3 linked regions of the Homo sapiens genome follow. The protein of the gene in region 1 purifies or fractionates together with the protein of each later gene. This does not show direct contact. Each region holds a gene or a part of one and is shown on either strand. Other genes may lie near its edges.

Evidence for each region.
Region 2: the proteins of ARPC2 (region 1) and ARPC5L fractionate together in Homo sapiens (co-fractionation; 7 studies listed by BioGRID and IntAct, with this or other methods). This does not show direct contact.
Region 3: the proteins of ARPC2 (region 1) and ACTR3B purify together in Homo sapiens (affinity purification with mass spectrometry; 7 studies listed by BioGRID and IntAct, with this or other methods). This does not show direct contact.

Annotation. Positions count from the first base shown.
Region 1 is NC_000002.12:218,248,076-218,251,823, reverse strand, and holds part of ARPC2 (actin-related protein 2/3 complex subunit 2), read right to left. Parts: intron 2,461-3,748; coding exon 2,360-2,460; intron 2,004-2,359; coding exon 1,903-2,003; intron 1-1,902. UniProt on the Homo sapiens protein: Actin-binding component of the Arp2/3 complex, a multiprotein complex that mediates actin polymerization upon stimulation by nucleation-promoting factor (NPF).
Region 2 is NC_000009.12:124,864,992-124,868,739, forward strand, and holds part of ARPC5L (actin-related protein 2/3 complex subunit 5-like protein), read left to right. Parts: intron 1-3,436; 5' UTR 3,437-3,748. UniProt on the Homo sapiens protein: May function as component of the Arp2/3 complex which is involved in regulation of actin polymerization and together with an activating nucleation-promoting factor (NPF) mediates the formation of branched actin networks.
Region 3 is NC_000007.14:152,762,702-152,766,449, forward strand, and holds part of ACTR3B (actin-related protein 3B), read left to right. Parts: intron 1-3,748. UniProt on the Homo sapiens protein: Plays a role in the organization of the actin cytoskeleton.

The sequences.
Region 1 (3,748 bases):
CAAGAGAGAGAGTGTAAAGCCCTAGGCGTACCACACCCACTAAAACTTTGCCTCAAGAGTACTGAGTGCTGGGCCAGGTGTGGTGGCTCATGTCTGTTATCCCAACACTTTGGGAGGCTGAGGTGGGAGGATCACTTGAGTCCAGGAGTTCGAGACCAGCCTGGACAACATGGTGAAATCCCGTCTCTACAAAAATACAAAAATTAGCCAGCTGTGATGGTGCATGCCTGTGGTCCCAGCTACTTGGGGGGCTGAGATGGGAGGATTGCTTGAGCCCAGGAGGTTGAGCCTGGCTGGGGATCACAGAGTACTGGGCTGGGCGCGGTGGCTCACTCCTTAATCCCAACACTTTGGGAAGCTGAGGTAGGTGGATCACGAGGTCAGCAGTTCAAGACCAGCCTGGCCAATATGGTGAAACCCTGTCTCTATTAAAAATACAAATAAATTAGTGGGGCTTAGTGGCGCACGCCTGTAGTCCCAGCTACTTGGGAGGCTGAGGCAAGAGAATTGCTTGAACCCAGGAGGCAGAGGTCGTAGTGAACTAAGATTGTGCCTCTGCACTCCAGCCTGTGCTTCAAGAGCGAAACTCTGTATCAAAAAACAAAAAACAAAAACAAAACAACAAAACAAAACAACAACAGTACTGGGGTGCTGGCAAATAACACTGGCTGTGAGGGAGGCTTATGACCTCAAGACTTTTAGTTCAACTGGTACAAAAGACAGCAGATGGGAGGCCGAGGTGGGTGGACTGCCTGAGCTCACGAGTTCTAGACCAGCCTGGGCAACATGGTGAAACCCCATCTCTACTAAAATACAAAAAATTAGCCGGGCGTGGTGGTGTGCACCTGCAGTCCCAGCTAGTTGGGAGGCAGAGGCTGCAGTGAGCTGAGATCGCGCCACTGCACTCCAGCCTGGGCGACAGAGTGAGACTCTGTCTCCCCCAACACCCCCACCAAAAAACAAACAAACAAACAAAAACCAGCAAATGAACACTATTACCTTATCTTAAGGACAGGACTGCCTGAATTTCATCAGAAGAACCAAGGTCTGGCACCTTTCACAAAGATGGAACTCTCTAGGCTCTAGGCCATGCTCGCCTTTCCTGCATGCAGAGCCACACCCCTATTTAGGGCTCTCCTCAAATTTTTTTTTTTTTTTTTGAGACTAAGTCTTACTCTGTCGCTCAGGCTGGAGTGCAGTGGCACAATCTTGGCTCACTGCGACCTCTGCCTCCTGGGCTCAAGCAATTCTCTGCCTCAGCCTCCCGAGTAGCCGGGACTACAGGCACCTGCCACCACGACCGGCTAATTTTTTTTGTATTTTTAGTAAAGATGGGGTTTCACCGTCTTGGCCAGGCTGGTCCTGAACTCCTGACCCTGTGATCCACCCATCTCAGCCTCCCAAAGTGCTGGGATTACAGGCGTGAGCCACAGCGCCCGTCACGGCTCTCCTCAATTCTATCCCTGATAAAGAGAACCTTCCTCTGCATGCAAACTTCCTGCTGAGAGTGGACCAGGAAAAAGAACACTTAGTGGGGTGGTTTCAGGCCTATTTACCCAATTAAAGGTCCCTAAGCAACTTACTCCATCTCTCCAGAAAGACCACCAAAAGCACAAGACTGACCTCATAACTCAGGCCCAAAAAGAACAGTCTCTTGGTAAACTTTGTTTATTTCCTAGCTGCCATTCTCATAGCTCACAAAGATACGGAAACAAGGAAACCCATCCTGGCCTATATGGCAGTGAGAACATGGAATCCCACCTTTGGTTTATCTACTTAGCCCTGCTGACCTCATATGTAGCCAGTGCCCAGATACATGGAGGACCAGGCCACCAGCGCCCACTGCTTCCTTCTCGGTGACTCAGGAGAGGAAGGTGGTCGCTGGGGTGCTGCCTAACTTACGTGATTGTTTTCATTTCTTTTTTCTCGGCATCTGGGCGTGCGCGGTTCAGCACCTTGAGGAAGTCAGACGTTTTCGCCCGCATACGTGTGTGAATATAGGCCTGGGAACAAACATAACAGGTACTAAAGCACAGTCATGGTCTAGAAAGACAGCTTTGCTGTCTTTCATCAGAGAGGTCATCAAGGGCGGTTGGGAACATACACCCTGGGATTGACCCAGGCCCTGCAGGGAAGCAGGAAGGTGAGCAATTCTGGAAACAAATATTCATCTCTGCTATAGGGAGGGATGGGGGACAGTGGCTTGATGAAGAAAGACCATGGTTTCTTGAAGCCTCTAGAATTATTTACCTAAGAGTCAATATCCACAGCGTAGACTAATGGAATGACTTTCTGTCAGGAGTTCTGGTGGAGGAAAAGACCCAGAGCATAGAGGCTGAGATGCTGGCACCCCCCTCACCTTAGAGCACTTGATGTGGTAGTGCAGGTAGTCCCGGAACGTGTGGATCAGGTTGATGGTGTTGTCTCGAGCACTGGCATTGGTGTGACGAGGGAACAGCACTGAAGGCGGAAGACACAAACAAGGCGTCAGGACACGACACAAATGCCAAAGGGTGGGGAAGAACAACAGCCTAGTGAACATCACTCCCTCTCTGCTTAAGTACACTCCACTTGTGTCAGTATTACCAGGCTTTGTCAGGGTTTTTTCTTGACATGGAAGTTAAACAGCATGGCCAGGAAAGGTGTCAACGAGCGTGAATGGAGGAGCCCACGATGAAAAACAGGGCTTGACCCTAGGCCTTCATTCTACTCCTGAATTCTGCAGCTGTGCATTTTGAAATCTATTTCCGGTCTGCCACACAGGTACTAGCTCTTGCCTCTGCAGCTGGACACACTCCAGGATCACACTAACTGGCTGTAACAGTTTACTTTAAGGAATCAGGATTAGGAAATGCAGCTGCCTGTCTTAGGTCCTTGGTGCTGAAATAGAGTAAACCTTCCCAGAAAACAGATGCCAGAGAATTTCCCATATTCTCACTGTGAAAACAGACAATAAGGTGTAAGGACCTGAACCCTCATGATAGGCCAGGCAGGAGGAGCTGCTCTGAATGGGCCTGACTGAAGTCCACCCTGTGACACCAGCCACCTAAAGACCTGTGTGAGGCTGGGCGCGATGGCTCACGCCTGTAATCCCAGCACTTTGGGAGGCTGACGCAGGCTGATCATCTGAGATCAGGAGTTTTGAGACCAGCCTGGCCAACATGGTGAAACCCCATCTCTACTAAAAATATAAAAATTAGCCACATGTGATGGCGTGTGCCTGTAATCTCAGCTACTTAGGAGGCTGAGGCAGGAGAATCGCTTAAACCCGGGGGGTGGAGGTTGCAGTGAGCCAAGACGGTGCCACTGCACTCCAGCCTGAGTGACAGAGCAAGACTCCATCTCAAAAAAAGACCTGTGTGCTCATCACAAAGTCCTTTGCACTACAGCAGGCCTGCATGCCCCTCTTGCCCTGGTTTTCTGGAATCGTTTTTACCTGCTGCACCTCCTCTACTCACTATCTGCAAAACCCCGTCAGTTGTCTGAAGTTTTCGTTGAAATGAAAAGGAATGCCTCCTAAGGAAGTGTGGAATTTCTGTGTCAATGTGCCCTGGCCTGAAAGTAAATGAACACCACAACAGAAGACAACTATACTTCAAAGAATCTAAGGTGCTTATGACTGTAAGTCTGCCATAATTTTATGTACCACAAGAGAAACATGCTGCCAATTAAAGTGTGACATGCTATGAATTGTAAGATGCATCCCAGCTTCAAAGACAAAAACTTGAAAAAAATGGTATAGCTGGCT
Region 2 (3,748 bases), on another chromosome or scaffold:
TGGCTAATTTTTATATTTTTAGTAGAGACGGCATTTCACCACGTTGGCCAGGCTGGTCTCAAACTCCTGACCTCAGGTGATCCACCTGTCTCGGCCTCCCAAAGTGTTGGGATTACAGGTGTGAACCACTGTACCTGGCCGGCATAGCTTAGTCTTAAATGAAAGTCTAGGCCGGGCGTGGTGGCTCACGTGGTGCACGCCTGTAATCCCAGCTACTCTGGAGGCTGAAGCAAGAGAATCGCTTGAACCCAGAGGCAGAGGTTGCAGTGAGCCGAGATCGGGCCATTGCACTCCAGCCTGGGTGACAAGAGGGAAACTCTGTCTAAAAAAAAAAAAAAAAAAAAAGGAAAGTCTAATGGTGCACAGTGCCTTTGCTGTTATATTTTTAAATGCTTAGAGTTAATGACTCTGCACATCTTTTTCGAACCTGAAGTCATTTGTGACTCTCTCTTACACGCCACATCTAGTCAACCAGTAAATTCCAGGTACTCTACCTTCAAAATTTACCCAACTTAAGGCCGGGTGAGGTGGCTCACGTCTGTAATCCTAGCACTTTGGGAGGCCAAGGCAGGTGGATCACCTGAGGTCAGGAGTTCGAGACCAGCCTGGCCAACATGGTGAAACCGTGTCTCTACTAAAAATACAAAAAAAATTAGCCGGGCATGGTGGCGGGTGCCTATAATCACAGCTATTCGGGAGGCTGAGGCAGGAGAATTGCTTCAACCCAGGGGGCAGAGGTTGCAGTGAGCCAAGATTGCGCCACTTCACTCAAGCCTGGGCGAAAGAGCAAAACTCCATCTCAAAAAAACAAAAAACAAAAAAAACAAAATTGGGACTGGGCGTGGTGGCTCACACCTGTAATCCCAGCACTTTGGGAGGCCAAGGCGGGCAGATCATGAGGTCACGAGTTCGAGACCAGCCTGACCAACATGGTGAAAACCTGTCTCTACTAAAAATATAAAAATTAGCCAGGCGTGGTGGTGTGCACCTGTACTCCCAGCTACTTGGGAGGCTGAGGCAGGAGAATCACTTGAACCCTGGAGGCGGAGGTTGCAGTGAGCTGAGGTTGGGCCACTGCACTCTAGCCTAGGCGACACAGTGAGACTCCCTCTTAAAAAAACAAAAAAACAGGTCAGGCGCAGTGGCTCACGTCTGTAATCCCAGCACTTTAGGAAGCCGACGCAGGTGGATCACCTGAGGTCAGGAGTTTGAAACCAGCCTGGCCCACATGGTGAAACCCTGTCTCTACTAAAAATACAAAAATTAGCCAGGTGTGGTGGCAGGTGCCGGTAATCCCAGCTACTCCAGAGGCTGAGGCAGGAGAATCACCTGAACCCTGGAGGTGGAGGGTGCAGTGAGCTGAGACTGTGCCACTGCACTCCAGCCTGGGCAACAGAGTGAGGCTCCATCTCAAAAAAAATGAATAAAATAAAACAAAATAAGAAATTGGTGGGGCACGGTGGCTCATGCCTGTAATCCCAGCACTTTGGGAGGCCGAGGTGGGCAGATCACCTGAGGTCAGGAGTTCAACACTAGGCCAGCCAACATGGAGAAACCCCGTTTCTACTAAAAATACAAAATTAGCCAGGCATGGTGGCGCATGCCTGTAATCCCAGCTACTCGGGAGGCTGAGGCAGAATTGCTTGAACCCGGGAGGCAGAGGTTGCGGTGAACTGAGATAGCCCCATTGCAGTCCAGCCTGGGCAATAAGAGCAAAACTCCGTCTCAAAAAAATTAAAAAAAAATTTACCCAGCTTGTTCCCACCATCCTCATTGGCCCCTGCCTGGTTGGGCTACCACTGTCTGTCCCCTGGATGGTTGCTGTCACCATCTAAATCACCTCTCTACTTTGGTTCTCGATCCCAGATGTGTTCTCAATACAGCTGCTTAGAAGGCCCTTTTCAAACAATTCAGACTTCTGATCTATTACTGTTCTGCTCAGAATTTCCAGGGCTGTCCCATTTGAATTAAGACTGAGTCCTTTCCTCGGCCTACAGAGCCCTACTCTCCTCCCAACCCCCACCTCATCTCTCTTCTGTTCCTGGCTGTTTCTCGAATATACTGAGCCCACCCCAACCTCTGAGCCTTCGCTTAGTTGCCTCCTTCATTTCCTTCCAGTCTCTGTCTAGTGTCACCTCCTCAGGGACACCTTTTTTTTTTTTTTTTTTGAGATGGTATCTCACTCCATCGCCCAGGCTGGAGTGCAATGGTGTGATCTCAGCTCACTGCAACCTCTGCCTCCTGGGTTCAAGCGATTCTCCCCGCTCAGCTTCCCGAGTAGCTGGGATTACAGGTGTGCGCCATCATGCCTAGCTAATTGTTGTGTTTTTGTAGAGATGGGTTTTCACCATGTTGGCCAGGCTGGTCTCGAATTCCTGACCTCAGGTGATCTGCCCCCTGGGCCTCCCAAAGTGCTGGGATTACAGGTGTGAGCCACTGCGCCCGGCCAGGACACCTCCTTTGATCACTTTATCTAAGGCACACTCAGGCACTGCATGGTTTTTTTCCCTCTCAACACTGTCAGCCCTGACATCGTATAATATGGATTTTTAAATTGTGTCTCCCTGGCTGGAATGAAAGTCCATGACCATGAGCTGGGACATTATTCCATTTACTAGTTTCTTTGGGGGCTGTTTCTTTACTTGTAAAATGGGCATTTCTGGGTTCAAGTTCCTTCTGACCAGGATGTTCTGGGGATATGAATTTCTGCTGTCTCGTGGCAGACCTGAATCACAAATATTTTTTCCCAGATATGGAACTGTATTGCAGGTGGGCTTTGCATGTTTCCAGGACCCCTGAGACTTTTCTTTTCTTTTCTTTTTTTTTTTTTTTTTTGAGACGGAGTTTTGCTCTTGTCGCTCAGGCTGGAGCGTAATGGCGCGATCTCAGCTCAGTGCAACCTCTACCTACCGGTTTCAAGCGATTCTCCTGCCTCAGCCTCCCGAGTAGCTGGGATTACAGGCATGCGCCAGCACGCCCGGCTAATTTTGTATTTCTAGTAGACACGGGGTTTCAGCATTTTGGTCAGGCTGGTCTCAAACTTCTGACCTCAGGTGATCCGCCCACCTCGGCTCCCAAAGTGCTGAGGATTACAGGCAGAGACTTCTTCACCACTAGTTTCCCACTATGGGAGTCTGTATCCTTACCACCGAAGATAAGGTTGCATCATAGTCTGGCAATATTTTTTTTATCTTTAGACACAGTTCAATGAGAGGTATTCGAAGCAGCAAAAATGAATCACATTCCAACTACTGACTTTTATTAAAAAGAGTACTATTAGATGAAAATAGTTTTCACACTATTATATAAAAAGACCCATTTTACTTACCCTAAGGCTAAGATCAATTAACAGAACCCCTGGGATAACAGCCCAGGCACCAAATCTGGCACCTCAGAGTCGTCCTTGACTTCCCTAAACCGCTTTCCCCCATCTCAGATTCTGAGAATTTGGTTTCTGTCAAGATGTGCCTCTCCAGCCAGGCCTCTCCTGCCAGGACGGTGGCCACAGGGCCATCTCCCTCTCCTGGCGCCCCCAACTGCCTGGCCAAGGTGACTGCTACACACGTGGGGTCGCAGAATCCCTCGAGTCACAACGTCTTCAACGTCTTGTCAGTCCCGTGATCGCACTAAACGTATTTAAAGCCCCCTACTCCTTTAAGAGGGTCACCTCTGTGTACAGGCGGCCTCCTCGTACTAAGTGTGGTGGCGTTCAAGGCTCCGAGACACAGGCGCCTCCCGCGCCACTCCC
Region 3 (3,748 bases), on another chromosome or scaffold:
GCGGCATACATTGCATCTGGTGGGTGTCATGTCTTTTAAGTCTAATTTAATCTGGAATAATTTCTTAACCTTTTTTTGTCTTTCAAGATGTTGGCATTTTTGACAGCCAGTTGTTACCTAGTGTTTCTCTGTGATAGATACAGGATATGCATATTTGTCAGGACTACCACAGAAGTCCTGTTGATCCTTCTTAGTGCATCCCATCGAAAGGCTTAAGATAGGGACTCGCCTCAGTCTTGATGAAGTTCACTTGGATCATTTGGAGAGGGTGATGTCCACGAGGTTTCTTCACTGTTCAGTTACTATTTTTCTTTGTAATTAATAAGTCATTTGGCTGGGCGCGGTGGCTCATGCCTGTAATCCCAGCACTTTGGGAGGCCGAGGCGGGCGGATCACCTGAGGGCAGGAGTTCGAGACCAACCTGGCCAACATGGTGAAACCCCGTCTCTACTAAAAATACAAAAATTAGCTGGGTGTGGTGGTGCGTGCCTGTAGTCCCAGCTGCTTTGGAGGCTGCTCAGGAGAATCACTTGAATCCGAGAGGCGGAAGTTGCAGTGAGCCGAGATCGGGCCACTGCACTCCAGCCTGGTGACAGAGCGAGACTCCATCTCAAAAAAAAAAAAAAAAAAAAAAAAAAAAAAGTCATTTGTGGGGGAATATTTTATGTAAGTACTCTATTCTTAAACTTTCATCCATTAGTTTAAGTATCCATTGGTGACTCTTGTTTTTTTCTTTTTTTTTGACAGAATCTTGTTCTGTTTCCTAGGCTGGAGTGCAGTGGCACAATCTCTGCTCACTGCAACCTCTGTCTCCCAGGTTCAGGGAATTCTCCTGCTTCAGCCTCATGGGTAGCTGGGATTACAGGCATGAGCCACCATGCCCGGCTAACTTTTTGTATTTTTGGTAGAGACGGGATTTCATCATGTTGCCCAAGCTGGTCTTGAATCCTGATCTCAAGCAATCCACCCGCCTTGGCCTCCCAAAGTGCTGTGATTACAGGCGTGAGCCACTGTGCCTGGCCCATTGGTGATTCTTGCCTGAATTACTAATTATGGTGATGGTTGCAAAATGGTGATTTTTGAACTCTATTATTCTGTCTCCATTTATTAGTTAACATTTTATTTTAAGGAAGAACTTATCCATAGGCCTCATTTGTTTATTGTCTGTATGAGTTGTCGTTCTGTTCAAAGAATGATAATCCATTATGCCGTCCTCATTGTTGTCAGTGGGTTATCTATTGCTTAAATTGTCCCAGATTTTGCCAAGTGAAGCTCATTCAGGCTGACTCCCATGTTCTTTATTTTTTATTTATTTATTTTTTGAGACGGAGTCTTGCTGTGTTGCCCAGGCTGAAGTGCAGTGGTGTGACTTCAGCTCACTACAACCTCTGCCTCCCGGGTTCAAGCGATTCTCCTGCCCCAGCCTCCTGAGTAGCTGGGATTATAGGTGTACACCACCACGCATGGCTGTTTTTTTGTATTTTTAGTAGAGATGGGGTTTTGTCATGTTGGCCAGGCTGGTCTTGAACTCCTAACCTCAGGTGATCTGCCCACCTCTGCCTCCCAAGGTGTTGGGATTACAGGAGTGAGGCACTGCACCTGGCCTTCCATGTTCTTTAGACATGTCTTCATTTTTTGAGCATTCTGGCCAGGCGCAGTGGCTCACACCTGTAGTCCCAGCACTTTGGGAGGCCGAGGATGTGGATCACGACCCGTGGTCAGGAGATCGAGACCATCCTGGCTAACACGGTGAAACCCCGTCTCTACTAAAAAAAAAAAGAAATACAAAAAAATTAGCCGGGCACACTGGTGGGCTAATTTTAGTAGTCCTAGCTACTCAGGAGGCTGAGGCAGGAGGATCGCTTGAACCAGGAGGCGGAGGTTGCAGTGAGCTGAGATCGCGCCACTGCACTCCAGCCTGGCAACAGCGAGACTCCATCTCAAAAAAAAAAAAAAAGAAAAAATAAAGCAAGGATATCTTTTTGTATTTTTTGCCTGAGTATCTGTGGCTTAGATTTTTAGAAATGGGATTTCTGGGTCAAAGGGCAAATGCATATGTAATTTTGCTAGGCAGTGTCAAATTACACTCATTAGTGTGCATTCTCACCAGTAATGTGTGAGGATGCCTGTGTCTTACAGACTCACCAATAGAGCCTATTGCCAATTTGTAAAATTACCAACCTAGAATAAATGATATCTTAATGTCTTTGTTTTGTGTTGCTGTAACAGAATACCACACACCGGGTAATTTATAAAGAAAAGAATAGAATGGTGAAGGTGACAGCAGTTAGTTGGAGTGAGCATCCTCCAAAGTTCTACAGTGTGGCCGAGGACCTTGATTGTACATTGTTCTTTATTTTACTTATTTATTTTTATTTTTGTTTTGAGACTGGGTCTTACCCTGGCCCTTTTTTTTTTTTTTTTTTTTTTCCGGAGACAGAGTTTTGCTTTCATTGTTCAGGCTGGAGTAGAATGGCGCGATCTTGGCTCACCACAACCTCCGCCTCCCGGGTTCAAGTGATTCTCCTGCCTCAGCCTCCCAAGTAGCTGGGATTACAGGCATGCGCCACTATGCCCGGCTAATTTTGTATTTTTAATAGAGACGGGGTTTCTCCATGTTGGTCAGGCCAGTCTTGAACTCCTGACCTCAGGTGATCTGCCTGCCTGGGCCTCCCAAAGTGCTGAGATTACAGCCATGAGCCACTGCGCCTGGCTTTTTTTTTTTTTTTTTAAATAGTCATTCCACATATTGTGAGATGCATTGTTACAGGAAGTCCCTTGCCCTCCCAAAAGCCACCCCACTTCTCTCAGGAGAACGGCCCAGTTCTCTCCTGAGTCCACAAAGGGGAGGTTACAGGATTGCTTTCATGTAAATTATGTAATGCAACATTTAAAAAAATCTTCACCTTAATACTTTTTGTTTTATTTTGAATAATCAGCTATCATGGTCCCCATTTTTGTCCCTACCTTGAGATGTATGAAGGCTTTTGGTCTCCCTGGGAGTGGGTGGAAGTGTGGAGGCATCCAGGGCATACCTGTACACTGACTTGAGACCAGTTCAGTAAAAGTGCACACCTTAAAAAAAGAAAAAAAAAAGTTTATTTGGCTCACAGTTCTGGAGGCTGCAGAGTCTTAGAGCATGGTGCCAGCATCTAATGAGGCCCTGCGTGCTGTGTCATCCCATGGCGGAAGAAGGAAGGGCAAGAGTGGGTGAGATTGTGAGCACGAGAGAAGGCTGAACTTCATATTTTAACAACCCACTTTCATGATTATGATAATCTTCGCATTTATTTTTTTCGGTCTCTTCATTTCTCTAACTTTTCTCTGGGGTTTTGGTCTTTTGCTTCTTCATTTTTAGAAGCTCTTCATGTATTAAGGTCTGTTCAGGGGTTCCGCAGACCACTCCCAGTTCCAGTGACTTGCTAGGAGGAATCAGGACTACGGTGAAAATGTACAAAGCAAAAACAGCCAAGGGAAAAGATGTGGGGTGGAGCCTAGAGGAAACCGGGGCAAGCTTCCCGAGTCCTCACCCAGTGCAGCCGTGCAGGATGCAGTTAATTCCTCCAGCATCAGGCTGTGACAACACGTGTGCAATGCTCCGTACCAGGGAAGCTCCTCAGAGACACAGGGCCCAAGGTTTTCACTGGGGACTTGTCATGCAGGCACCCTGTGCATAGCACGTGCCGGAATTCCAGAGTCCCAGAAGGAAAGCAAGGCATTGGCATAAACCACGTTGTTTGCCACTCTA